7 linked regions of the Homo sapiens genome follow. The protein of the gene in region 1 purifies or fractionates together with the protein of each later gene. This does not show direct contact. Each region holds a gene or a part of one and is shown in the gene's direction. Other genes may lie near its edges. The genes, in order: MAGEB2, FCF1, LYAR, CHERP, ZC3H8, MYEF2 and YTHDC2.

The links.
Region 2: the proteins of MAGEB2 (region 1) and FCF1 purify together in Homo sapiens (co-immunoprecipitation; 2 studies listed by BioGRID and IntAct, with this or other methods). This does not show direct contact.
Region 3: the proteins of MAGEB2 (region 1) and LYAR purify together in Homo sapiens (co-immunoprecipitation; 2 studies listed by BioGRID and IntAct, with this or other methods). This does not show direct contact.
Region 4: the proteins of MAGEB2 (region 1) and CHERP purify together in Homo sapiens (co-immunoprecipitation; 2 studies listed by BioGRID and IntAct, with this or other methods). This does not show direct contact.
Region 5: the proteins of MAGEB2 (region 1) and ZC3H8 purify together in Homo sapiens (co-immunoprecipitation; 2 studies listed by BioGRID and IntAct, with this or other methods). This does not show direct contact.
Region 6: the proteins of MAGEB2 (region 1) and MYEF2 purify together in Homo sapiens (co-immunoprecipitation; 2 studies listed by BioGRID and IntAct, with this or other methods). This does not show direct contact.
Region 7: the proteins of MAGEB2 (region 1) and YTHDC2 purify together in Homo sapiens (co-immunoprecipitation; 2 studies listed by BioGRID and IntAct, with this or other methods). This does not show direct contact.

The regions. Positions count from the first base shown.
Region 1 is NC_000023.11:30,214,230-30,218,362, forward strand, and holds the start of MAGEB2 (melanoma-associated antigen B2), read left to right. Parts: upstream 1-1,333; 5' UTR 1,334-1,426; intron 1,427-4,133. UniProt on the Homo sapiens protein: May enhance ubiquitin ligase activity of RING-type zinc finger-containing E3 ubiquitin-protein ligases. Proposed to act through recruitment and/or stabilization of the Ubl-conjugating enzyme (E2) at the E3:substrate complex.
Region 2 is NC_000014.9:74,719,644-74,723,143, forward strand, and holds part of FCF1 (rRNA-processing protein FCF1 homolog), read left to right. Parts: intron 1-3,500. UniProt on the Homo sapiens protein: Part of the small subunit (SSU) processome, first precursor of the small eukaryotic ribosomal subunit.
Region 3 is NC_000004.12:4,270,178-4,273,154, reverse strand, and holds part of LYAR (cell growth-regulating nucleolar protein), read left to right. Parts: intron 1-2,977. UniProt on the Homo sapiens protein: Plays a role in the maintenance of the appropriate processing of 47S/45S pre-rRNA to 32S/30S pre-rRNAs and their subsequent processing to produce 18S and 28S rRNAs. Also acts at the level of transcription regulation.
Region 4 is NC_000019.10:16,525,438-16,528,937, reverse strand, and holds part of CHERP (calcium homeostasis endoplasmic reticulum protein), read left to right. Parts: intron 1-682; coding exon 683-858; intron 859-3,260; coding exon 3,261-3,500. UniProt on the Homo sapiens protein: Involved in calcium homeostasis, growth and proliferation.
Region 5 is NC_000002.12:112,252,243-112,256,412, reverse strand, and holds the start of ZC3H8 (zinc finger CCCH domain-containing protein 8), read left to right. Parts: upstream 1-1,370; 5' UTR 1,371-1,431; coding exon 1,432-1,505; intron 1,506-4,170.
Region 6 is NC_000015.10:48,150,796-48,154,295, reverse strand, and holds part of MYEF2 (myelin expression factor 2), read left to right. Parts: intron 1-402; coding exon 403-504; exon of another isoform or gene 505-1,989; intron 1,990-2,011; coding exon 2,012-2,062; intron 2,063-2,353; coding exon 2,354-2,422; intron 2,423-2,724; coding exon 2,725-2,823; intron 2,824-3,124; coding exon 3,125-3,196; intron 3,197-3,500. UniProt on the Homo sapiens protein: Transcriptional repressor of the myelin basic protein gene (MBP). Binds to the proximal MB1 element 5'-TTGTCC-3' of the MBP promoter. Its binding to MB1 and function are inhibited by PURA.
Region 7 is NC_000005.10:113,555,194-113,558,693, forward strand, and holds part of YTHDC2 (3'-5' RNA helicase YTHDC2), read left to right. Parts: intron 1-858; coding exon 859-941; intron 942-3,500. UniProt on the Homo sapiens protein: 3'-5' RNA helicase that plays a key role in the male and female germline by promoting transition from mitotic to meiotic divisions in stem cells.

The DNA.
Region 1 (4,133 bases):
TGCCAAGTGAGGAGATGAGAAGAGACTCTCAAATTCATCTCCCCAAGGAGTTCTGGGCTGGGATTTGCAAGGAGATCATGGAGGGCGAGGGGCTGGAGAACTGAGGTTGTTGATTCGTTGGGGTAAAGGGGATGAAATCATCAGAATGTGGAAACTGCGTTTTTTTTTTTTTAGTCAGCTCCTGTGGGGTCTTTTGGACCAGCTGATGTCAGTAGGGTCCTTTAGAGCAGCTGGCATCAGTGGGGTCCTTCAGACCAGCTGAGTCATTAGAATCATCAGTATGCAGGACCTTAAGGAATATCTCAAAGAAAAAAAGTTTCATTATGTTAAAATTGTTATCTATAGAGCAATTAAGGGCAACTATAATCTAGTAACAGGATCTACATGATTCTGGGATAATAGGCACCAAACTACTATGAGGAAGCAGGTCAGAGAGCAGCTGACTTCATGATTAATGCTGAATGTTCTGCAAGCTTGGCGTATCTTCATTTATCTCCCTTCCCTCTTCCCTGATTAATTTTATACAGTTCATAGGGGCAGTTTCAAAACCACCCACCCCAGAACAGAGGAGCCCACAAATTCCACCAATGCTGTCACCCTTGGGGAGCCCAGAAGAGAATTATGAGGTGGAGAAATCCCATCAATATGCCTCGTGTGTTTCACAGAGGTGAAGACCTTGGACTAGTGGAAATGGCCCTAGGTCAAAGAGACAAAACCCACGCCCTAACAGGAATCAAGGTGAGGATCCTAAGTGTTACGAGGGGGCTCTCCCCCTTGCAACACCAGCAGAGGGGGCCAAACAGAGCCCCTCGCCATTGTTAGCACCGAGAGGCCCCAAAATAAGTATCTCTGAATCCCCTTCATTCCACCTGTATAGTCTCGGGGAAGGAAGGGCCTTTGTCTGAAGAGGGTGACCCCAGTTGTGCAGAGAGAGAGTCTTGGCTTTCACGGGAATCAAGGTGAGGACTCTGAGGGCGGATGAGAAGACCTCTCCCCAAAAAAGGCACATTCACAGAGCCCTGCCGCTGCTGTCAGGCCTGTGAGGCCCAGGCAGGGGTGGCCTGTTTGGCACGCTTAGATTTCCACAGTGGGGGCTGAGGGAGGTGGGGGTATTGTTTGGAGGCTGGCGGATTTGGGTCAGCACGCATATTCGTCCCAGGCTGCTAGATACTGAGGTGAGGACCCCTAGTGGAGACGAAGGGACCAGCAACGCTAGAACAGTGACGTCCGGTAGCGTCCAGCCGTCAGCCCTCAGACGCCACGGGCTGCCGGATGTGAGTCATCCTGACTTCCGCTTTGAAAAAAAAGACCCGAGCGGATGTGGCTCATCCTGACTTCCGCTTTGGAGGCGAGGACCCGAGCGAGTGTAGGGGGTGCGGCGTCTGGTCAGCCAGGGGTGAATTCTCAGGACTGGTCGGCAGTCAAGGTGAGGACCCTGAGTGTAAACTGAAGAGACCACCCCCACCTGTAACAAAGAGGGCCCCACTAAGTCCCGCTTCTGCATTTGGTCCTGAGAGGCTCCGGTAAAGCCGTCCGGCAATGTTCCACCTGGAAAGTTCCAGGGCAGGGGAAGGGTGGGGGGAGGGGCAGTCGCGGGGGAAGGAGGTTTGGACGCAGGGAATAGGCCTCATTCTGCACGTAGGGTGGGTGTAGGCCCTAACTGAAATCAATTTGAGGGCCCTAAATGTGGACTGAAGAGAACATCTCCTACCCTTAACAAAGGTGGCCTCACTAAGTCTCGTCCCTGAAGACGGCTCTGGGAGGCCCCAGCAAAGCTGTGCCTGGAAAGTCTCAGGGAGGGGAGGGCCTTGAACCTAGGAAGCAGCCCTGCTTCTGCTCATATGGCATCAACCTAAAACCTAACTGGGGTTAAGGTGAGGACTCTGAGTATTAATGAGCGGACCTCTACCCAAAAGAGGAGTCATGCTGGGCAGTTCCCAGGCCGAGGTGACACTGGGTTTTAGATGGTCCCAGGCTGACATGACAAATGCAGAGCAACCTGACTTCCTCTCCCGGGACTAAAGAAGTTGAGGGCTACATCCAAGACCCACATCTGCTGCCAGCAATAGGAAGGTCAGGGCAAAGCTAGCAAGCTGAGATGCTCTCTAGTTTCCTCTGGAGGTGGTCTCAGGGAGGTGAGGGTCTTGGTGTAATGGGGTAGGTCTAATGCGACAGAGAGGCCCAGTCTCTAACAGGAAGCAAGGATGTGACACTGAGTGATGAGGAGGGGACTCCAACCAGAAAGAAGTGCCATATAGAGCCCACTCTTGTTGTCAGACCAGGGAGACCTGAGCATGGCATGTTGAGTTGTACTCACTCTCCCCAAGACATCTCAGAGAAGTGAACGACCCCATTAAAGAGGGCAGCCTGGCCGGGCGCGGTGGCTCACGCCTGTAATCCCAGCACTTTGGGAGGCCGAGACAGGCGGATCACGAGGTCAGGAGATCGAGACCATCCTGGCTAACACGGTGAAACCCTGTCTCTACTAAAAATACCAAAAAAAAAATTAGCGGGGAGCGGTGGCGGGCGCCTGTAATCCCAGCTACTCGGGAGGCTGAGGCAGGAGAATGGTGTGAACCTGGGAGGCGGAGTTTGCAGTGAGCCGAGATAGAGCCACTGCAGTCCGGCCTAGGCGAAAGGGCGAGACTCCGTCTCTTAAAAAAAAAAAAAAAAAAGGCAGCTTGAGGTCAGCAGAGGGAGGGTTTCCAGGTTGTGCCAGATGTTATGATAAGAACTCTGACGACTGCAGGGGGCTCCCACCCCATATTAGTGGGAGCCACACAATCCTCAGTACTGTCAGCTCTGAGAGACCCCAGGCAGAAATGTGAAACAGAGGTGCCCATCAGTTCCCACTCAAGGGTAACAGGGAAATGAGAGTTTTAATCTGAGGGTGGTGATCACTTGTCAACAGAAGTAATGTACTAATTGGTCCATTCTGGCATTACTATAAATACCCAAGACTGGGTAATTTACAAAGAAAAGAGGTTTAATTGGCTCACAGTTCTGCAGGCTGTACAGGAAGCATGATGCTGGCATTTGCTCAGCTTCTGGGAGCAGGGCTCAGGAAATTTACAATCATGGCAGAAGGGGAAGGGGAAGCAGACATGTTACATGGCCAGAGCAGGATCAAGAGGCCAGGGGAGGCGCTACACACTTTTAAATGACCAGATCTCATGAGAAGTCATCGTTAAGGGGAATGGTGCTAAACCATTCATGAAAAACCTGCCCTCATGATCCAGTCATCTCCCACCAGGCTCCACCTCCAACATTGAGGATTACAGTTAGACATGAGATTTGGTGAGGATACAGATCCAAACCATATCAGGGAAGAATCTTAGACCCTCTCATGAGTCAAATTTAGAGGCTGAGTTGGGACTGTATGTGGGACCATCTATCACAGGGCAGTTATCTGCCTGCCACAGCTTTTACTTTTGGGAAGACCACATTTGGTCAGATAAGGCCACCCTCACTTCCTCCTATGGGTTCTCAGGGATGTTCACTCTTACCATGACGACATAGGCCTCAGTTCAATAAAAAGGAGAGCTCCTCTACCAGGAGTCAAATTGAGGAATCTGAGAATTCAAGGAACCACTGAACCCTTAACAGTGGAGACATCAAAGAATCCAGTCCAACCCTTTATTTTCAGCCCTAGAAAGCTCAGGAAAGGGTTATCAGGTTTAGTGTCCCCCTCTCTTTTTTATATAAGATCTAAGAGAGGTGAGATTCTTAGTCTGACGGTGTAGCCACCACTCAGCAGAAGGGGGCTGGTGCCAAGCCCTACATGAAGCCAAGGTGGGGACCTTGAATGAGAGCTGAAGACTCTAATGATTCCAAGACATCAAAGACCCCACTGAACTCTCAGCACTGGGTGTCACTTCTCAGGGTGGTGGTTGAGGCACCCCTTCAATTTCTTCTCATGAGTCCCAGGGTGCTTTGAGGTGTCAAATTCACAGTAGCGGAAGGGAGTGGCTCAGGCCCTGCCAAGACTTCATATGATAATCCTAAAAGTTAACTGATAAAACCCCAAACACCAGAAGACAGGAGGCCGCACTGCCAGTACCTCCTGTCACCATAGTAAGCCCAAGGAAGGGCTGACAGAATGCAGTCTGAAACTCACTGTAGGGGTTCTGTGG
Region 2 (3,500 bases), on another chromosome or scaffold:
GGTCCCAGCTGCTTGGGAGGCTGAGGTGGGAGGATCACTTAAGCCTGGGAGGTCGAGGCTGCACTGAGCTATGTCCATGTCACTGCCCTCCAGCCTGGGTGACGGAACAAGAACCTGTCTCAAAAGGGGGAAAAAAAGGAAGTTGCTTATAATGCATTTCCTCAAAGGAGCAATTATAAAAATTCATAAATCTGTGTGAGATGGAGGGTTACTTTTATTTATTAATGAAAATGGCCTGTAATCCCAGCACTTTGGGAGGCCGAAGCACGCGGACTACCTGAGGTCTGGAGTTCAAGACCAGCATGGCCAACATGGCAAAACTCTGTCTCTACTAAAAATCCAAAAAAAATTAGCCGGGCGTGGTGGCAGGTCCCTATAATTCCAGCTACTCGGGAGGCTGATGCAGGAAAATCGCTTGAACCCCAGAGGCAGAAATTGCAGTGAGCCAAGATCGTGCCATTGCAAGAGCGAAACTCCGTCTCAAAAAAATAAAAAAAGAAAATGGATCCTGTATTATTTTTTGCTTTATAAAACAGATTTACTGAAATATAATTGACTCCCTTTACAACTATACAATTCATCCCTTTAAAGTGTACAGTTCAGTGACTTCTAGTGGATTCACAGAGTTGTGCATCATCCATCACCATAGTCAATTTTAGAACTTCCATTATCCCAGGAAGAAACCTGGAGACCCTTAGCCATCACCCTGCAACCCTCACCATTCTCTCTATTTCTAGGCAACCACTAATCTACTTTCTGTTTCTATAAATTTCCCTATTCTGGACATTTCATAAAAATAGAATCTTATAATATTTGGTCCTTTTTCATTTAACGTACTGTTTTCAAGGATCATTTATATTACAGTTTGTATCAGTACTTCATTTCTTTTTATTACTAAATAATATTCCACTGTATGGATAGATCACATTTTAATCATTTCTACTTGCTTTTTACATTGAACTATATATTTTGAACATTTTTCCATGGCATGTATATATAAATGGGCCTCATTCTTTTATTTTGAGTCAAGGTCTTGCTATGTCATCCAAGCTGGAATGCAGTGGTCTGAGCCAATAGCTTACAGCAGCCTCAACCTCCAGGTCTCAAGTGATCCTGCAGCCACAGCCTCCCAAGTAGCTGAGACTACTGGAAAGAGCCACCATGCCTGGCTATTTTATTTATTTATGTTTTGTAGAAACAAGGTATCAATCATGTTGCCCAAGTTTTTGGGGTTTGTTTTTTTTTTTTTTTTTGAGACAGGCTGTCACTCTGTCACCCAGGCTGGAGTGCAGTGGTGTAATCTCAGCTCACTACAGCCTCTGCCTCCCGGGTTCAAGCAATTCTCATGCCTCAGCCTCCCAGTAGCCGGGATTGCAGGTGTGTTCCACCACACCCACCTAATTTTTTTTTTTTTTTTTTGAGACAGAGCCTCACTCTGTTACCCGGGTTGGAGTGCAGTGGTGCAATATCGGCTCACTGCAACCTCTGCCTCCAGGCTTCAAGTGATTCTCCTGCCTCAGCCTCCTGAGTATCTGGGACTACAGGCATGTGCCACCACGCCCAGCTAATTTTTTTGTATTTTTAGTAGAGATGAGGTTTCACCATGTTGACCAGACTGGTCTTGAACTCCTGACCTCAGGTGACCTGCCTGCCTTGGCCTCCCAAAGTGCTGAGATTACGGGCATGAGCCACCACACCCAGCCCTAATTTTTATATTTTTAGTAGAGATGGGGTTTTGCCATGTTGGCCAGGAATTCTTTTTTAAAGTTATGTATGGCCGGGCACGGTGGCTCACGCCTATAATCCCATCATTTTGGGAGTTCGAGGCAGGTGGATTGCTTCAGGTCAGGAGTTCGAAACCAGCCTGACCAACATGGTGAAACCTTGTCTTTACTAAAACTACAAAAATTAGCTGGGCGTGGTGGAGGGCGCCTGTAATCCCAGCTACTTGGGAGGCTGAGGCAGGAGAATCGCTTGAACCTGGGAGGCAGAGATTACGCCACTGCACTCCAGCCTGGGCAACAAAGTGAGACTTCAAAAAAAAATAAAGAATGAATAAAGTTACATACTATAATTGCTTCTCAGCCTTTTGGCTAAGATCAGGTGTAAAGTTACATACTATTCTATTGTTTAAATACATAATTTTTTAAACCCAGTATCTTATTAGGTATTTTGGTTATTTCCAGGTTCTACCCAATTAACAAGTCTGTAGTAAATATCCTTATGAATATGTCTCCCTAAGAGTGTATTTCTTTAGGATACATTGTCTGGAAGCTGTATTATGTATCAAGGGATTTGTGTATTTTTAATAGGTATTGCAAATTTGCCCTCAAATAGTTGTACCAATGTATATACCTACAAACTTAGTATGAGAATACTTGTTTCCTCAATATTGGGTATTTTCTTTTTTTTTTTTTTTTTTGAGATGGAGTTTCACTCTTGTCACTCAGGCTAGAGTGCAATGGCACGATCTTGGCTCATTGCAACCTCCATCTGCTGGGTTGAACTGATCCTCCTGCCTCAGCCTCCCAAGTAACTGGGATTACAGGTGCCCAACACCATGCCCAGCTATTTTTTTTATTTTTAGTAGAGACGGGTTTCACCATGTTGGCCAGGCTGGTCTCGAACTCCTGACCTCAGGTGATCCGCCTGCCTCAGCCTCCCAAAGTGCTGGGATTATAGGCGTGAGCCACTACGCCCGGCCAATATTGGATATTTTCATCTGTTTAATCTTTGCCACTCTTCTAGGTGCCACTCTTCCCAGTCTTTGGCCCAATAGACTCCGTTCAAATGTTGGCTTTACCATTTGCTATCTATTTAGTTAACTTCTTTGTGTCTCAGGTTCCTCACCTATAAAATAGGGATGATGATTTTTTTTTAAACTATTATATGGCTTTCTGTTTGATAGTTGTCAAACAGAAGTTTTTAAAATTTTTATGTGATCAGATTTACATTATCTGGCTAATTTCATGGTTTCTTGTGGTTCACATTTAAATTTTATTTCATCTGAGCCAGGCACAGTGGCTCACACCTGTAATCCCAGCACTTTGGGAGCCCAAGACAGGAGGAATGATTGATCCCAGGAGTTCAAGACAGCCTGGGCAACATGGCAAAGCCCCATCTCTACAAAAAAAAAATGTTTTTTTTTAATTAGCTGGGCATAGTGGTGCGTACCTGTGGTCCTCGCTACTCGGGAGGCTGAGGTGGGAGAATCATTAGAACCCAGGAGGATAACTAGAACCCAGGAGTTTGAGGCTGCAGTGAGTTGAGATCGTGCCACTGCGCTCCAGCCTGGGCAACAGAGCAAGACTCTGTCTCAAAAAAATAATAAAAATAAATAATTTTTTTCCCATCAGGAACTTACATTAATATAAAAATAATGACAGAGTTCAGCTTAGTTTTTTTTCCCCAGATATGTTTATAACAGGGAATCTGCAGTTTGGGGTTGGGACAATCTTAGTTTCTTAGGGTTTTCTTCTACTCTAGTTCTTCTTGTATAT
Region 3 (2,977 bases), on another chromosome or scaffold:
GCTTTCTGAGACCCGGTTCCCTTTCGCTCCTCCCCAACTCTCTTGCCCCTGCCTTTCACTGTTCTCTTAGAAGTCCCCTGAACTGTGCCCCTGCCCATCTCTGGGCCTGTTTCTGGGGTCTCCTTGCTTGTATCCTCAACCTCAGAATCCAGTCCCTGGCCTTCACGGGCCCTCTGAAATGCTGTCTCTTACACAAAGCTTCTCTCCTGCTTCTTCAGGCCTGAAGCACTCATACCTGTCGGGAGGTGGCAAGTCGTCATCTCTCTGCCACCTCCCCCAACCCCCAGGATCCTGCAGTTCAGAACAGGTCCAAAGACTCAAATGGGCCTGCAGCTTTATTAGCAGAGTTCAGTGACTGCCAGCATTGGGTTAGATCTCTAAGCTTAAAACCCCCTTCTCAACTTAGTAAACAGTAGTGTCCCCATATCTGTGGGATGGAAAATTCCAGAAATAAACAATTGATAAGTTTTCCATTGCATGCTGTTCTGAGCAGCATGGCGAGATCTCTTGCTGTCCTGCTGTATGCCTTCTTCACCACAAGAAGGGTGAGGATAGGACAATAAGATATTTAGAGAGACACAGAGAGACCACATTCACATAACTTTTATTATAGTGTATTGTAAAATTGTTCTATTTTATTATTAGTTATTGATAATCTTTTACTGTGCCTCATTTATAAGTGGAGCATTGTCATAGGCATGAATGAATATTTAGGGAAAGACAGTATATATAGGGGTTCAGTACCATTGTGATTTCAGGCATCCACTGGGGGTCTGGGAACTGTCCCCTGCAGATCAAGGGGGACAACTGGAATGGTTATTTTTGTTGTTGTTGTTACATTTTTTGTTTTGAGATCCTTGTAGACTCACATGCAGTTGTAAGAAATAATGGAGACTCAGGCGTCCTTATGTATCCGCGTACCCTTTACCTTGTTGCCACCCAGGATAACACTTTACACAACTGTAGTACAGCATCTCAGCCGGGATGTTGACATGGATACGCTTCCATTTCCATCGCCATTGCGCAAGGCTGCCTCCTGCTGCCCTCTTGTAGCCACAGCCACTTCCCTCTCACCCCCACCCCCTCCTTAGCCTCTGGCAATCACTAATCTGTTCTTCATTTCTGGAATCTCCGAATGTTCTATGAATGGAATCATACAGTATGTAACCTTTTGAGACTGACTCTTCGCTCAGCGTTTTTCTCTGGAGATTCACCCAGGTTGCTGAACTGACCAATATTCATCTTATTGGTGAGGAGTATCCCGTGCTGTGCGTGCATCACAGTCCTTTCATCATTCACCTGTGGAGGGACACCTGGGTGGTTTCTAGTCTCTGGTTATTAATGAATAAAGCTGCAGTAAACATTGATGTGCAGGTTTCTGTGTGAACTAAGTCAGTTTTTCTGAAGCGAATGTTCAATGCTGTGTCATACAGTAGTTGCATATTCTTTCTTTTCTAAGAAACCACCAGCTCAATAACTAATGCTGGCGAGGATGTGGAGAAAAAGGAACGCTGGTGCACTGTTGGTGGGAATGTAAATTAGTACAACCACTATGGAGAACCGCTTGGAGGTTCCTCAGAAACCTAAGAATAGAGCTCCCGTCCAATCCAGCAGCCCCACTGTTTGGGTATATATTCAGAAGAAAGGAAATCCCTGTGTTGAAGAGATACCTGCACTCCCGTGTTTGTTGCAGCACTATTTACAATAACCAAGATTGGAGCAACCTATGTGTCCAGCAGCAGATGAATGGGTAAAGAAAATGTGGTGCATGTACACAGCGGAGTACTATTCAGCCATAAAAAGAATGAGATCCTGTCGTTTGCAGCAACGTGGATGGAACTGGAAGTCATTATGCTAAGTGAAATAAGCCAAGCACAGGAAGACAAGCATAGCATGTTTTCACTTATTTGTGGGATCTAAAAATCAAAACAGTTGCCAACTCATGGAGATAGAGAGTAAAAGGATGGTTACCAGAGACTGGAAAGGGTGGTGGGAGGCTGTGGGAGAGGTGGGGATGGTTAATGGGTATCAAGAAAATAGAATGAATAAGATCTAGTATTTCATAACACAACAGGGTGGCTGTAGTCAATAATAATTTAATTGTACATTTTAAAATAACTAGAGTATAATTGGATTGTTTGTAACACAAAAGGATAAATGCTTGAGGTGATGGATACCCCATTTACTCTGATGTAAGTATCATACATTGCATGTCTGTATCAAAATATCTCACGTGCCCCATATACACCTGCTGTGTACCCACAAAAATTTAAAAAGGAAAAAACTGTCAGCTGTTTCAGGAGTCTCTGTACACATTTTATATTCCCAGTAGCAGTGTGTAAAGGATCTAGTTTCTCCACATCATGGTCAATATTAGGCGTTGCCACTGTGTTGTATTTTCGCCATTCTGATAGATGTGTGGTAACCGCTCATTGTGGTTTGAATTTGTGTGGCCCTAATGACTAATGTTGTTGAGCACCTTCTTCTGTGCATATTTGCTATCTGTATATGTTTTTGTTGAAATGTCTGCTCTCTTTTTTTAAATTTTTTTCCCCTATTTTCTAATTTGAGTTGTTTGGGGTTTTTTTGGTTGTTGTTTTTGTGGGTTTTTTTTTTTTTTAACTGTTGAGATTTTAGTTTTTAAATTTATTCTAAATAGTACTCCTTTGTGGGACATAACAGTTTGTGAATTTTTTTTCAGTCTTTTTGCTTGTTTTTTCATCATAACAGAGTCTTTTTAGGGCAAATGGTTTTTATTTTGATAAAGTTCAATTTATCAATTTATCTTATGGATTGTGCTAACAACTCTTTACCTAGCCCTAGAGCCTAAAGATTTTTTTGTTTTCTAAATTATCTTAATGGATAACTTTTTTTTTTTTTTTTTTTACAAATCAACATTTTATGTAGTTCAGGTGTACAATTTAATGTGTTACTGTATTTTATTTTTATTTTTCGAGACAGGGTCTCACTGTTGCCC
Region 4 (3,500 bases), on another chromosome or scaffold:
TCTGTCGCCCAGGCTGGAGTGCAGTGGCGTGATCTCAGCTCACTGCAAGCTCCGCTTCCTGGGTTCACGCCATTCTCCTACCTCAGCCTCCTGAGTAGCTAGGACTACAGGCGCACGCAACCATGCCCAGCTACTTTTTTGTATTTTTAGTAGAGACGGGGTTTCACCGTGTTAGCCAGGATGGTCTCGATCTCCTGACCTTGGGATCCACCCACCTCAGCCTCCCAAAGTGCTGGGATTACAGGCGTGAGCCACCGCACCCGGCCTAGCAAAGGATTTTAAAATTACATTCTGATCAAAGAAGATTTGTTGTAGGAATATGAGGATTGTATAGAATAGAAAATAACAGATGTGGGGAAATGACCTTTTAATTAGATACAGTAAAGATGTCTAATCAAATTCAGTGTGGATAGAAATTCTTCAGCAAACCAAGAAGGCAGAAGTGAGGCCTGTTTCTTGTAAAGCTTTGAAAAGGACAGATGTGTGTCATGTTCAAGGTCGAAACCTCCCCTCGCCCTGTCCCCTTCCTGGAAGCCAGTGATAGTCATGGTTTTAGTGGGTCCTGAAGCGATCATCCACTGGGCACTAAAAGCGGTAGCCTGGTTTGCTCTGGGGTAGTGTGGAGAGGAGACAGCGCCTCCTGCTGCCAGGCCTGCTCTAACTGCCTGTCACTTGGATTTAGATGACAGCAAGCCTCCCATCCAGATGCCTGGCTCTTCAGAGTACGAAGCTCCAGGAGGGGTCCAGGATCCTGCAGCTGCCGGCCCCCGGGGCCCCGGGCCACACGACCAGATCCCACCAAACAAGCCCCCTTGGTTTGACCAGCCTCACCCCGTGGCTCCTTGGGGCCAGCAGCAGGTATTGATTGGAACCTGGGGTGGGAGCAGATGGGGCACACTTGGCCTGATGGGGTAGCCTCCCCTATGCCAGTTGGTGGGCGTTGAGTGGCTTACTGGGGAACAATGAGGGATATTCTGTGGCAGAGCTTATGCTGGGTTAGTGACAGCCCTGTCTTCCTGTGGCTCCGGGACAGGTCAAGTGACAGGTCTTCACGTCCCTTCCCCGAGCTTTGATGGTTTGGGCTTCTCTGTAGTATAGATCACCATTGTCCTGCGAGTGCAGGGGAGTTTAACGCTGCAAGGCACGGCAGGGTGTTCTGTTTCCTGTCCTCCTTAAACAGGTTAAGCTAGTTGAGTGTCAGTGTTTTGTCATCCTGGAAAGAACAAGGTGCTTTTGTAAGGAAAGGGGGAATGTCAGAAATGTCAGCCGTGTTGCCCCTGGGAGGCCTCAGATGCAGCTTTGCTATGGGTCACATACCCCTGGGCCAAGGCAGGGGCCACCTTATGTGGCACAGCATGGCTGTGAAATGCCCTGCAGCGTGCTGGGTCCACTTTCAGCACTGAGGCACAGCCCCGGGTCTTCCAGGGCGTGACTTTCCCCCTTGCCCGTGGGGCCTGGTTGGCTTCGCAGCGTGGCCTTTCCAGGTGACTCCCTGTCTGCAGGGACAGGTGTAAGGATGGCAAGGAGACTGGCTCTGGACTGAGACTTGGTGGTTGTGGCTTTGAGCCTCCCATCCCCAGCTTCAGGACACGAAATTGAACCTCACAAAAGATTGGACACCCCCATAAAGACAGCTCCCACCTCCAAGTGCTGGCCAGGAGCCAGATGGTGGTGGCTGTTTTGCAGGTACCCTCTGCTGGGGGGGGCAGTTCTTGTCCCTGTTTTGTAGGTGTGGAAACAGGCCCTTAGTGTCTCCAGGCTCAGTCTTTTTGCAGACCAGAGGGTTGGGCTCAGGACAATGGGCACGCCCCTCACTGAGGGTGCCCGCTAGGCCAGCAGTGCATCCTGCAGTCCACACTGAGAAACAGCAGCCTGGCCTGCTTGACTTGGCCATGTGGGGTCTTAACACGTTTAAAAGTAATTTCTCAAGGCAGGAAGATTGCTTGAGGCCAGGAGTTTGGGACCAGCCTGGGCAACAAGGCAAGACTCCATCTCTACAAAGAATAAAAATAAGCTGGCATGGTGGTGCACACCTGTCGTCCCAGCTACACAGTGGTCTGAGGCAGGAAGATTGGTTCAGCCAGGACTTCAGGCTTCATTGAGCTATGGTCATGCCACTGCATTCCAGCCTGGGTGACAGAGTGAGACCTTGTCTCTAAAAAAGAAAAGCAAGGCTGGGCGTGGTGGCTAACGCCTGTAATCCCACACTTTGGGAGGCTGAGGTGGGCAGATCATTTGAGGTCAGGAGTTTGAGACCAGCCTGGCCAACGTGGTGAAACCTCGCCTCTACTAAAGATAAAAAAATAGCCGGGCATGGTGCCAGGCGCCTATAATCCCAGCTACTCGAGAAGCTGAGGCAGGAGAATCACCTGAACCCGGGAGGTGGAAGTTGCAGTGAGCCAAGATCGCGCCACTGCACTCCAGCCTGGGCAACAGAGCGAGACTGTCTCAAATTAAGAAAAAGAAAAACAAGTAGTTCCTGATATTTAATATCTGGCTCTCTGGCTTCTCTTGGAAGCCTGGTGAATGTGGCAGCCTGGGCCAGCCTCCCCTTAGTAGGGGTCAGCGCAGTTACCCAGCTGTGACCCTAGACACCGGCCTTCTCATTGGCCTCTGTGCTCCTCCCCTCCCCTGCCCAAGCTGGAGTTTGCCCTCCTGGCTTTAAGTCTCCAGAGCAGAAGCTGATGAGGGAAGAGCCTCCCGTCTTCAGTCTACAGGAAGATGCTGGCTTGGTTTGAAAGTCCCCAGAAGCAGACCCCAGGACAAGGATGTGTGTGCCGCAGTGTATCTGCCCAGCAGACGGCTTTTGGGGAGAGGGGGAGTGAGGCAGGGCAGGGGGTGTCAGAGTGAGCCCCGCCCCATGGGTGCCTGGGGTGCCCTGAGAAGCGATACCGTCTGTGCCTCTGCACCTGCCCCTGAGGGGCGAGGGAGCTGGCGTTTGTCTGGCAGTGGTAGCGGGGAGCACCTTGTGGCGCGGGCGGCCTGTGTGCGGGTGCAGCGCGCCCCAGCGGCAGAAACAGCCCCGGGACTGAGATGCGGGTGCAGCGGTTGGGTGTCTGGTCATTTTGCAGCAGCATGTGGTGCGGGCTGAGAGCAGGTGCCCAGCATCCTCGCAGGCGTCAGCGTAGGAGGCGCCTCAACGTGGCCAGGGCAGCGCCTCCATGGTCTGAGCCAGCGCTGTGATGCTGCCGAGCGCTGTGATGCTGCCGAGCACTAGGGCCTAGACCACGCAGGGCTCAAGCCTGTCCCTTCCCTTGCAGCCGCCAGAGCAGCCACCCTACCCGCACCACCAGGGCGGCCCACCCCACTGCCCCCCCTGGAACAACAGCCATGAGGGCATGTGGGGCGAGCAGCGCGGTGACCCCGGCTGGAACGGCCAGCGCGACGCGCCCTGGAACAACCAGCCCGACGCCGCCTGGAACAGCCAGTTCGAGGGCCCCTGGAACAGCCAGCACGAGCAGCCGCCCTGGGGCGGGGGCCAGCGCGAGCCACCCTTCCGC
Region 5 (4,170 bases), on another chromosome or scaffold:
CTGCTAAAGAGGGGGTAATTCTAGTTTTTATCTCCTTAATTCAATTTTTTCTCTGAATTTTTAGTAATGATTCATGTTCCATAGGTGATGGCCTACAATATAAACAACATGGGAAAGTAGAATTTCCCTGGGGAAGATGTCTGGCTTCAAATAGTTCCCTTCACTAATCGGTAAAGGGATCCTGATTCATGCCAAGAATCAAACACTCCCTTCACTTACAGAAGCAAGTCAGGTTCTCTATCACTGGCCCAACCTAGGGTTTGAGCCTTCCTTTCTACAGGTCCCTTAAATGGCATTACATTGAGCAAAACTGAGCAATTTCCTGTTCTGCAACAGCATGCTCTATTTTCCTGCCTTCATACAATTCTCTCTACTTGGAATGCCCACTTCCTCTTTTCCTATGGAAATATCTCAAGACCCAGCTCAAATACTCCCTTCTCAAGAAGCCTTCCCAACTGGATGCAATTTTTTCCCTCTTCTGAATTCTCTTAGTATTTGGTACTTTTTAACGGACTTTTCTGTCTTGAGGTTACTTGTGTATTCATTTTAATTCCCATTCAATTGTAGAGACCCTACAAGTTACATTACCTGACTACACATCTGTTTATTCATTTCAAAACTGTGAATGGTAATAGAACATCTTTTACAGGGCTGTTGTGAGGATTAAGTTAGCTAACATGTGAAACGCTATTTCTAAGGAATAGTAGTGGAGTGCTCAGATAAATGTTAGCTGTTACTACCATCCCTTAGAAATACTGTGATTTTGATGGAAGAGTTTTCACCAAGGTGAAAGCAGAATCCTAACAACTAATTTTAAAAATTCTGGGCTGGGGCCGGGCGCGGTGGCTCACGCCTGTAATCCCAGCACTTTGGAAGGCTGGGGCGGGCGGATCACGAGATCAAGAGATCGAGACCATCCTGGCCAACATGGTGAAATCCCGTCTCTACTAAAAATACAAAAATTAGCTGGGCGTGGTGGCAGACACCTGTAGTCCCAGCTACTCAGGAGGCTGAAGCAGGAGACTTGCTTGAACCCGGGAGGCGGAGGTTGCAGTGAGCCGAGATCACGCCACTGCAGTCCAGCCTGGACGACAGAGCTTGACTCTGTCTTTAAATAAACAAACAAACAAACAAATAAATAAATAAAATAAACAAAATTCTACTATCTGAGGTAAAGGACGAAAAAGCTTACAGAAGGGCAACCACGGCGGCGCCTGCGCAGAGCCGAGGCGAAGGAGGCAGGGAGAGACCCGGCCTGCCCAGAGTCGCGGAGGGCGGTGCAGCGCATGCGCGGGGCAGGTGAGGCTGCGCGGGGCGGAGCCTGTGGCCCTGGCGCGGCTCTGGGTCCGTCTCGTCGCGTCCGGGTTGTCACTCTCTCGGGTTGTTACTCTGTAGCTTCCCGGCTCGCGAAAGGGAGGACCTGTCTGGGTCATGGATTTTGAGAATCTTTTCTCAAAACCCCCCAACCCGGCCCTCGGCAAAACGGCCACGGACTCTGACGAAAGGTGATCCCATATCTTTTCATCTTTTGAATGCAGGGGCTCAGCGGGACTCCGCCTCTTAGTTTCTTCTGGATTGGAGGCAGTCCGGGGCCACGTCCGGGCCGCGTCGCGAGGGCCCGTGGGGAGCACGTGGGCCGGCCGGGCGCCACCGTCTGACCTATAGAGGTCGTGCGGGGTCCGGGTGGGAGCAGAAGCTGAACGCGGGGCTCAGGCTTAGGCCGTCAGGGCCGGGGCTGTCGAGAGCCTGGGCGGGGGAGCGGGGTGGAGGCGAGAAGGCTCCGGGATGCGCCCCTTTCTCTGCACAGCAGCGGGTGAGGAGCCCGCCTCTGTGGTCCCGTAGCGTCTGTCTTTACCGTTGTTGCCTGTTTCCACGAGACCGTAAACTCCCAGAGGACACTGATGTGACCTTTTTCACTGACACCTCCTAGGTTCTTTTCTGTAGAAAGGATGAAACCACAAGTTTATTGAAAGGTAAAGAATAGGCAATACTCTGCCATTAGTCCACTGATTTGCATGGAAAGACCCTAAAGACCACAATAAAGCAACAGACGTCATTTGGACTTAATATTTCCATTAGGTTGGAAAAGCAAGTGAGACTCTTGGTCAGATGGCCCTAATTTGTAGATTATATTTTTGGAGCAGTGTCTAGTGATTTGAAATGCTAAAAACCACCATCTTTGTTCTTAAACCTACGTCTTTTATTTCCCTCAACTGAGATATATTTCCAGTTGTGATTGATTTTACCATTCGATATTGGTCAGCTGTTCACTCTATCTCAAATTTTACCTTAACTGATCATCCAGAGCTTTACCTTGTGCTTTACATGAAATAAATCACTTAATCCTCAAAACAAACTTAAAGAGAAGATGATGCCGTCCTCGTTTTACAGATGGGAAAACTGAGGCACGGAGAGGCTAAATAACCTGCCGAGATTGCACAGTGTAAGTGGAAGAGCTATGTCCAGGATCCATGATTTTATCACCAAGCTTCTCATGCAAAATGACTAAAATTTTAAAATAAGCCCTATAAATATTGGAAAGAGACAGATACACTAATTACTTGCAGATGATATAATTTACTAAGAAAAATAACTGGTACTAATTGATATGTTATAAAATACATAAGAATTCATCACACAAAAAAAAGATAATAGCAACATTTAAAAATCCGAACAGCAGCTATCAGTTTCAAAGTGTGTTGGACACAAGCTCCATTCCCCAAAACTTGACTGCAATACATAAAAGACACTTGGAATTTTGCCAAAATGATGGGTGAAGGATGGTATGGAAGTATGGTGAGCTGTCCATATTATTTGCCCATTTTTCTCCTTTTTGGTCTTTTTCACATTCTAGGATCTCTTATCTGCGAATACTTTACTCCCAATTGTCATTTGTCTTTGCCTATGGCATTATTTTTCAATGTAAAAAGGAATGGGGATGTTGTGGTTTGGTTTTATGCAGTCAGATGAATCAGTCTTTTCTCATATGGTTTCTGGTTTTTTTTCCGAGTAATTTGTGATGGGAATACTTCTCATTCATTCAAAAAATCGTATTGAGCACCTGCTACGGCCTTGGGGATATAGTAGTAAATGAAGAAGAGATGAAAATTTCTGTACTAATGAATTTACATTATTAGGGGAAGGGGGAGACATACATAAATATATCATATTTTAGGTGGTACTAAATGCCCTGAGAAAATGAATGAAGGGTAAGGGGAAAATAAGCACTGGTGGGATGGTAGGGAGGGAGTAGTTTTGTGGGTTTTTTTTTTATTTTTTTGAGCAGAGTCTGGCTCTGTCGCCCAGGCTGGGGTGCAGTGGCGCGATCTCGGCTCACTGCAAGCTCTGCCTTCCGGGTTCACACCATTCTCCTGCCTCAGCCTCCCGAGTAGCTGGGACTACAGGCGCCTGCCACCACGCCCGACGTATTTTTAGTAGAGACGGGGTTTCACCATGTTAGACAGGATGGTCTCGATCTCCTGACCTTGTGATCTGCCCGCCTTGGCCTCCCAAAGTGCTGGGATTACAGGCGTGAGCCACCGCGCCCGGCTGGGAGGTGTAGATATTTTAAGAAGGTAGATAAGGAAAGCCTCACTGATAACATTGGTAAGTTTTAAAAATCTGTGTAGGGACCTGAAGGAGGTGAGGGGGTTTCATAGTCCAGAGGGGTGGAGAGGAGTCTGTATAAAGGTCCTCAGACGGAGTGAGCTTGGTGTGATTGGGTTAGGGGAGCAAAGTGGCCAGGACAGCTGGGGTGGAGTAAGAGGGACTTGGAAGTCTGCGAGGTACTGGGGTAGGGTTAGGGGAGCCCAATCATGGAGGAACTGGTAGGTGCCGAAATAAGGACTTTGGCTTTTACTCTGAATGAGACAAGAGACCATTGGAGGGTTTTTCAGCAGAGTGACATTTGAAATATTTTAGCAGGGTCATTCTAGTTGTGTTGAGAGTAGAATGTAGGGGTGCCAGAGCAGCTTGGATTGTTGTATTAGTGGCAAGAAGTGGTCAAACGTGGGTATGTTGAAGATAGAATAAACTGGATTTCCTCAGAGATTGGATGGGGATGTGAGAGAGGAATCAAGATTGACTTTAAGGTTTTGGTAGGGATCTTGAGAGGGATGGTGTTGCCGTTTTAGATAGCAAGAAGGATTAGGCTTCAGAGAGAAGAGCAAG
Region 6 (3,500 bases), on another chromosome or scaffold:
TTGAACCATTTAAAAAGTAATTATCAAATTTTAAGTGGGTCTACAAATTTGGGCAAGATACTCATTTTCAGATATGTGTGCCATATATAAGGTGATATGATATTATTCAAAATCCTCTAGGTATTTTATTATTCCTCTCAGTGTACCTTTAAGTGGGGTATAAGGTGTACTTTGTATTATATCATGTTTTATTTCATAAAACACTTCTCATTAATAAATGGTTTTATAGTCGGGCTTCAGTGTGCTACTTTCTAGACAAAAACAAGAACCAGTGCTTTTATATGAAAATTTGCAGAAATTTTACAGATACTACTACAGGTATATAGCTTTTTAAAAAATTTTATTGCCAATTAGTTAATCATATATGGATCTTTGTAATGATTGTTCTCATTTTTGTTTTAGGTGGTCTTGGAGGCATTGGGATGGGACTTGGTCCGGGTGGACAGCCTATTAGTGCCAGCCAGTTGAACATAGGTGGAGTAATGGGAAATTTAGGTCCAGGTGGTGAGTATTCTAACTTCCTCTTTTCTTTTTAAATGATACATATGCTAGCTAATAAAGCCTCCATTGATGTGGTCTGTAATAATGTTTAAAGGACTCTAATTAATAGTTAGATATTTACGGTGTCACTTCATTCTGAAAAAGGAATGAAACCTTGAGCACAGCTAACATGAAAGAGATAGGCAGAAGTCAGGAGGGTTTCTTTGGGGCCAGCTATGTTGTAGCTAGCCTTTTAGCATTTTGGATTTTGAAATGTCTTGAAGGCAGAAGGAGAATATATCATCTATGAACAGTATTTATGGAGTAGCTGAAATGCTACCATATCATAGGCAGCTAAAATCTGTTTATCCATTTGGGAAGGTGGCTTTTCAGGTAGTTATTTGGCTGCTCACCTGGAAGAACTCACAGTTCATTTTTAGAGATTGGTTTTTAAACTTTGGTGTTAGGACCCTTTTATATTTTAAAATTTGTTGAGAACCCGAAAATGCTTTGTTTATGTAGTTATAATTACCAGTATTTACTGTATTATAAATGAAAAATTAGAAATTAAAAAAATTACATATTAAAAAATGATAAACTCATTACATGTTAACATACATAAAAGTTTTAAGAAAATAAACTATTTTTCAATGCAAAAAAGAAATTGGTGAGGAGAGTGGCATTGTTTTACCTTTCCACACATCTTTTTAATGTTTGGCTTAATATTGCTGTTATATCTGTTTCTGCACTTTAGTTTTTTGTGATATTGTACATCATATAGTGTTTGGAAAATTACACCTTAAACTCAAGAGAATGAGGGTAAAACATCAAATAATGTCTTAGTAGTATTTGGTGACTTAAATAGTTTTGACCTATTGAACCCTCAAGAGTCCCTGGACCATACTTTGTGAATTACTGTTTTAATTGATGGACTAATAAATGCTATCAGATTCCTATTTTGTCAAGATGCTGTAGTCACACTTTAAATTATGAGGCTCATTATCATAATCATTCTGATCCAAACAAGTTTTCTCCCTTACCCTTAGACTCTCACACCTACCTACCCTCTCCTAAATACATACTATTTATATTTTGAAAATTTTTACTGCTCTTTTAACTGCGATGTTTAGAGAGTCCTTACATTCTGGCCTGATCTCTAAATCTGCTGTAATGCTATTTCTGTGTCTATGCTGGAAAAAAAAAATCATTGATAGTAGTATTTCTGTGTTTATTGTGGAAAAAAAAGTGAATGATTACCTAGTTCAAGATATTCTCTAACTGAATGTTGTGGGTGTTACTAGTGAATTTTGCTTTCTTGTCTGATAAATGTTCAAAGAAACCCTTTTGAAGATTCATGATTAGACAGCTGCTATGGCATAGCACTTTAAACCATGCCTCCTGTACCCTACCGCTTCTCTAGTGTTTCATTGTGGTTATACCAGTGGTATCTATTTTGCTATAATGCATTATATCATCTTTTAGTCATAAAAATAAAATATACTTAAAGTACATACTGTGTATTTTATTTGAGGTATGGGAATGGATGGTCCAGGTTTTGGAGGAATGAATAGAATTGGAGGAGGTATGTATAAAGATTTGTTTTTTTGTATGTACCCATCACCATTTTTAATAAACTAGAAACTGTGTTGAGAATTCCATGAAAAAAAAGTCATGGTTTATTGTTGGCTCATGTTCTAAAGGCTGCTAGCAGAAATTGAGCCTGGTACATACTTAAAGGAAGGTGATGTGTTAAGAAGTAGCTGCACAAGGTAGGGTGGATGAAGAGCTTACTGGTGAGATTTAACATTTACAAAACGTACCTTTCAGCTACATGACTGACAGTTGGATCTCAAAATTAATCTTTATTCCATAGGAATAGGGTTTGGTGGTCTGGAAGCAATGAATAGCATGGGAGGATTTGGAGGAGTTGGCCGAATGGGAGGTAGGTAAATGTATGCAGTGGGAAGTGTGTGCATATTTAGTTTTCCCTATTATTAATATTTCCCCCCTATAACTTAGGAATGTGTGCTAAAAATGTCTTCAGAAGGCATATAGGCACTAGGGGATAAGGACAGGCCTGGGGAATGGGGATGATATGTGTGGCATGTGAGGTAAATTGGGTAAATGACAGACTATTTTATATTTGTGACTTACGCGTCTTTTCATAATTTAGATACATTCCTGAATGTTTTCAACATGTATTGATATATTTGAAAAGGTTAATTTGTTGCACAATTTTTTCAGAGCTGTACCGTGGTGCGATGACTAGTAGCATGGAGCGAGATTTTGGACGTGGTGATATTGGAATAAATCGAGGCTTTGGAGATTCCTTTGGTAGACTTGGTAGGGCTGGCTGCATACTTCTCCTTTTCTTTTTGTAGGCTATAATTTTTGAAATTTGGTTTCTCTTTTTTTGTGAAAAATCAGAAAATCATAATGTTTTATACAACTTATTACCTGAAGAAAACACTTTAAGGATTTTAATATGCTAGCTCTCTTTTTCAACATCTTACATATTTGAACTCTATTTTCAGAAGACTTTATGCTTTTCATTTATTGTAAATCAGAGCACATAGTACCTTGGGAATTTTAAAGTATGATTATTTAAAATTAATTAGTATATTATCTTTCCATCCTTGTTTAGGCAGTGCAATGATTGGAGGGTTTGCAGGAAGAATAGGATCTTCTAACATGGGTCCAGTAGGATCTGGAATAAGTAGGTTTAAATTTTACTAGAATTTATTCAGTAATATTTGAGTGCTTGCAAAGACTTTGCAAGAGTAGTTATCGTAGTATAGTAATACTTTGTTCTTATACGTTAATGTGTCTTGCTATAATTTGAGAAACCTTGATAATTGAGCAAAGCCTTTCTGTTTGATTATTGTTTGAAATTTCTAAATTAACTGTTTGAATTTTACTTTTTTGATATTTCTAAACTATGTGTTAACAGCCAATCCAGGAACCTTCTTTCCAACTAAGGAATCTGGGGATTTCTCTGATCATGTTTCAGGAGCAACTTT
Region 7 (3,500 bases), on another chromosome or scaffold:
TAGGTGTTACTTATTTATTAAGTAACTGAAATTTAAAACATGGGTAGTGTCAAAAGTTATTTAACATACAAAATTGACAAATGTAATGTCATATTAAAAACCAAATAAGCTGTTTTCTAAAAATTTTATAAACTATTATGCAAACATTTTTATTTGCTCTATGCAGTTATTTTATGAAAGGGAAAGTATAAGTACCGAGTGACTGAAATACATGTTCTAGTTAGGCTTGTATTTCTTTAAAATATTTCTCTACAATAAATTTTCACTGTAGGTTATTTGAATAAGTATGTGGATAACAATGGTTCTTTTTTACTTTCTTCATTGTAACGTTCGGGAAAGGCTAACTTTGTTAGTAGCTCAGCAGGAAGTAAAGTGGAAGTGGTTAAAAATATTTCTCTTTGGGATAAGATTATTGATTGTTATTCTTACTCCACAAGGTTAGGTCCCTGAAAAGTATTTCAGAAAATGTCTTTCCTTGATCTTCTTATTCTGCACAGTGATGCAAATCTGATAGGAAAGTGACCTCAAGGGAATAGATCCGTTCTCTCCAATCTTGATGTCTTATGAGAACTGGCTGCCATTATCCAGCTGTGGCAGAGAGCAACAAATAGCTCAGCAGAGCACAGAATGGAGAAGTTTTACGCTCTTCTGAGTTTAGTTTTTAAATCCTTTTTTCTTAGTATGTTTGTAACCAGAAAATCAGGGTTTATTAAAAATCAGTACTGCTGTTTTAATTATTTAATCAAGAGAGGACTTTGAATTAAACTTTTGGCATGTTAAAATATGTTGATAACATTCTTGCTATTACCTTTTAAATACCTTTTATATTCTAACATAAAGATGGTTTAAATATTACAGAAATCCTTTGATGCTCTGAATTTTGTTACAATGTTAAAAATGGTATGGATTTCCAAAGCTAGTGCCATACAGCGGAAAGGCAGGTAATGTATATTTAATGTATATTCATTCAATTGCCTGTAAAATGGAAACGTTTTTATATGCATTACACATTTATCATATATTCCATGTTCAATAAAATAGTAGTTTTCATGTTAAAATTTTTATATTATTTTTGCAAAGCAAGCCATTTTGATACTTCCTTAAAAGTTGAATGTAGGTTATGTTAAAATTAAAAACTTTTGCCTAGTTAAATGTACATTCAGATGTAAGAAGCTTAAAAAACAAAACCAAAAATTCTAAACATATGCAATGTAGGACAAAGAGCTAATTTCCTTATTATATAAAGAAGCTCTTTGAAATCAACTAAAGGCCAATAATCCAGTTAAAATGGATAAAGGGCACAAATAGGCAATTTACCAAAATAAAAAATATGCATGTCCTACTAATACATTAACCTCACATATACTACCTAATATGTATCTAAATAAATGCAAATTAATGAGGTATTATTTTTTGAATCTCAGATGGGCATTGATGAAAATGTTTAACAGTATGTACAACATAGAGGAAAAACATGGGCCAATAGTCTTTCATATTTTACTGATGGGAGTATAGATTGGTGTGACTTCTTCAGAGTGCAATTTGAAACTATTTATCCAAATCTACTCTTTGACCATAGATTCCACTTGTCATAATTTATCCTGAGTATGCTTGCACACGTGTGCAAAGATGTATGTTTAAGACTGTTCTTTGAAGCATTGTTTATAATAATGTAAAGTCTGGGAACAGTGTGATGTCCATCAATACTGAAGTGATTAAATAAATTATAGCCACACAGTGGCTTTCTGGGTAGCTGTTAAAAGGAAAAATGTAGATCTGTGTGTTCTTATATGGAATGAGTTTTCAGGATGCATTGTTAATTGAAAGGATACAGAACATGCATCTAGTAGTCTTTTGTGGTAAGAAAAATATATGTGTGTTTGTGTATGTATTTTGACACAAATGCATCGAGAAGTCTGGGAGAAACATTAAAAAACAATGAATGATTGTTAACTCTGAGAAGGAGGATTTGTGGGGTTCTTGGAGTAAGGAGACAATTTTATTTTTTTTGTAATTTGGTTATTTTACTAAGTGTTTGGGTTACTTTTTAATTTTCAAAAGATAACATTAAAAAGTATCATTTTCAGTAAATATTTATCTTGCATTTTATTATAATTAGCAGGAAAACATGAAATGCTGACTTTCAAAGAATGCCTCATATACTGAAGACTCATGTGCATTATTTCTTTACTTTGTAACTTCATAGAATGCCCATGAGGGCTTTGTTGTTGTTATGTCAGTTGTTTTCTTATGACCAATAGTGGCTTGATACATTAAGCTGGATGTCCCTGCTATTAATAGTATATTATTGTGGGTAAGGCTGGGTGTAGTGGCTTATGCTTGTAATCCCAGCACTTTGGGAGCCTGAGGTGGAAGGATCACTTGAGTCTAAGAGTCTGAGACTAGCCTGGGCATCATAGTGAGACCTTGTCTCTACAAAAAATTAAAAAATCAGCTAGGTGTGGTGGCACAGGCCTGTGGGCCTAGCTACTTGGGAGGCTAAGGTGGGAGGATCATCTGATCCTGGGAGGTCGAGGCTGCAGCTGCCGTGAGCTGTGATCATACCACTCTACTCCAGCCGGAGCGACAGAGCCAGACACTGTCTCAAAAAAAATAAAATAACAAATAGTATATTATTGGAGATGAAGGCCAGAACTGCAAAAATTTTCATTGCCATTTTTCAACAAATGTTTATCAAAAGTCTTCCCTGTGCACATGTTACGGATAGTGATAAATAAACCATAGCCTGATAGGTAAAGCTGGAGGTAGGGCAAATGTTGCAGTCCATGTGGGAGTCCAGTAAATTAAGCAATTTTAATACAGTGTTATTTGTGCTACAACTGGATGTTTCCAGAGTTGTTAAGAATGAATCTGAGACAATTGTGAATAAAGGGGGAGGCATTTCTAAAAGGCAGAGGGAAAGTATAACCAGGTATACTTATTTGCCTAAAGGCAAGAGTGAATAGGGAGGATGTTTGGATAGAATTTAGTTTAGAGAATAGTGAAAAATGAGCTGAAAGTTGGGGACAAGTTTTTAAGGACCATTTTGAGTTTTCTCTCTTTTTTAAAAAAATAAACAGTGGGATGACATGAGTATAGTATTCTTTCAGCTCTCTGAAGAATGGATTGGCAGGAACAAAAATGATGGTAGGAGGACCCAGTAGGAGGCTTCTTCATTAATACTTTCCTATAATAAGGGAGAGATGAAAGTAGTCTGGATTGTTTTAGTGGTGGTGGAAATAAAAATAAATAGATAATTAATTCAAGAGATACTAAAGAAAGTAATGTTGGTGATTGATTGTGTATGTAGGGGGTGAGGGGTAAGGAAGAGAGTGGAGTTAAGGATGTCATCCAGGTTTCTGTCTTAAAAAATCGGACAGTAGTGCCATAGTCAGATAGGGAAAATTGGAAGAGTGTTTTCACTGGAGAGAATAATTAATTTTTGGTTATTTTGAGTTTGAGTTGCCTGTAGAAAATCGAAGTGGATTGGGAGGCTGAGG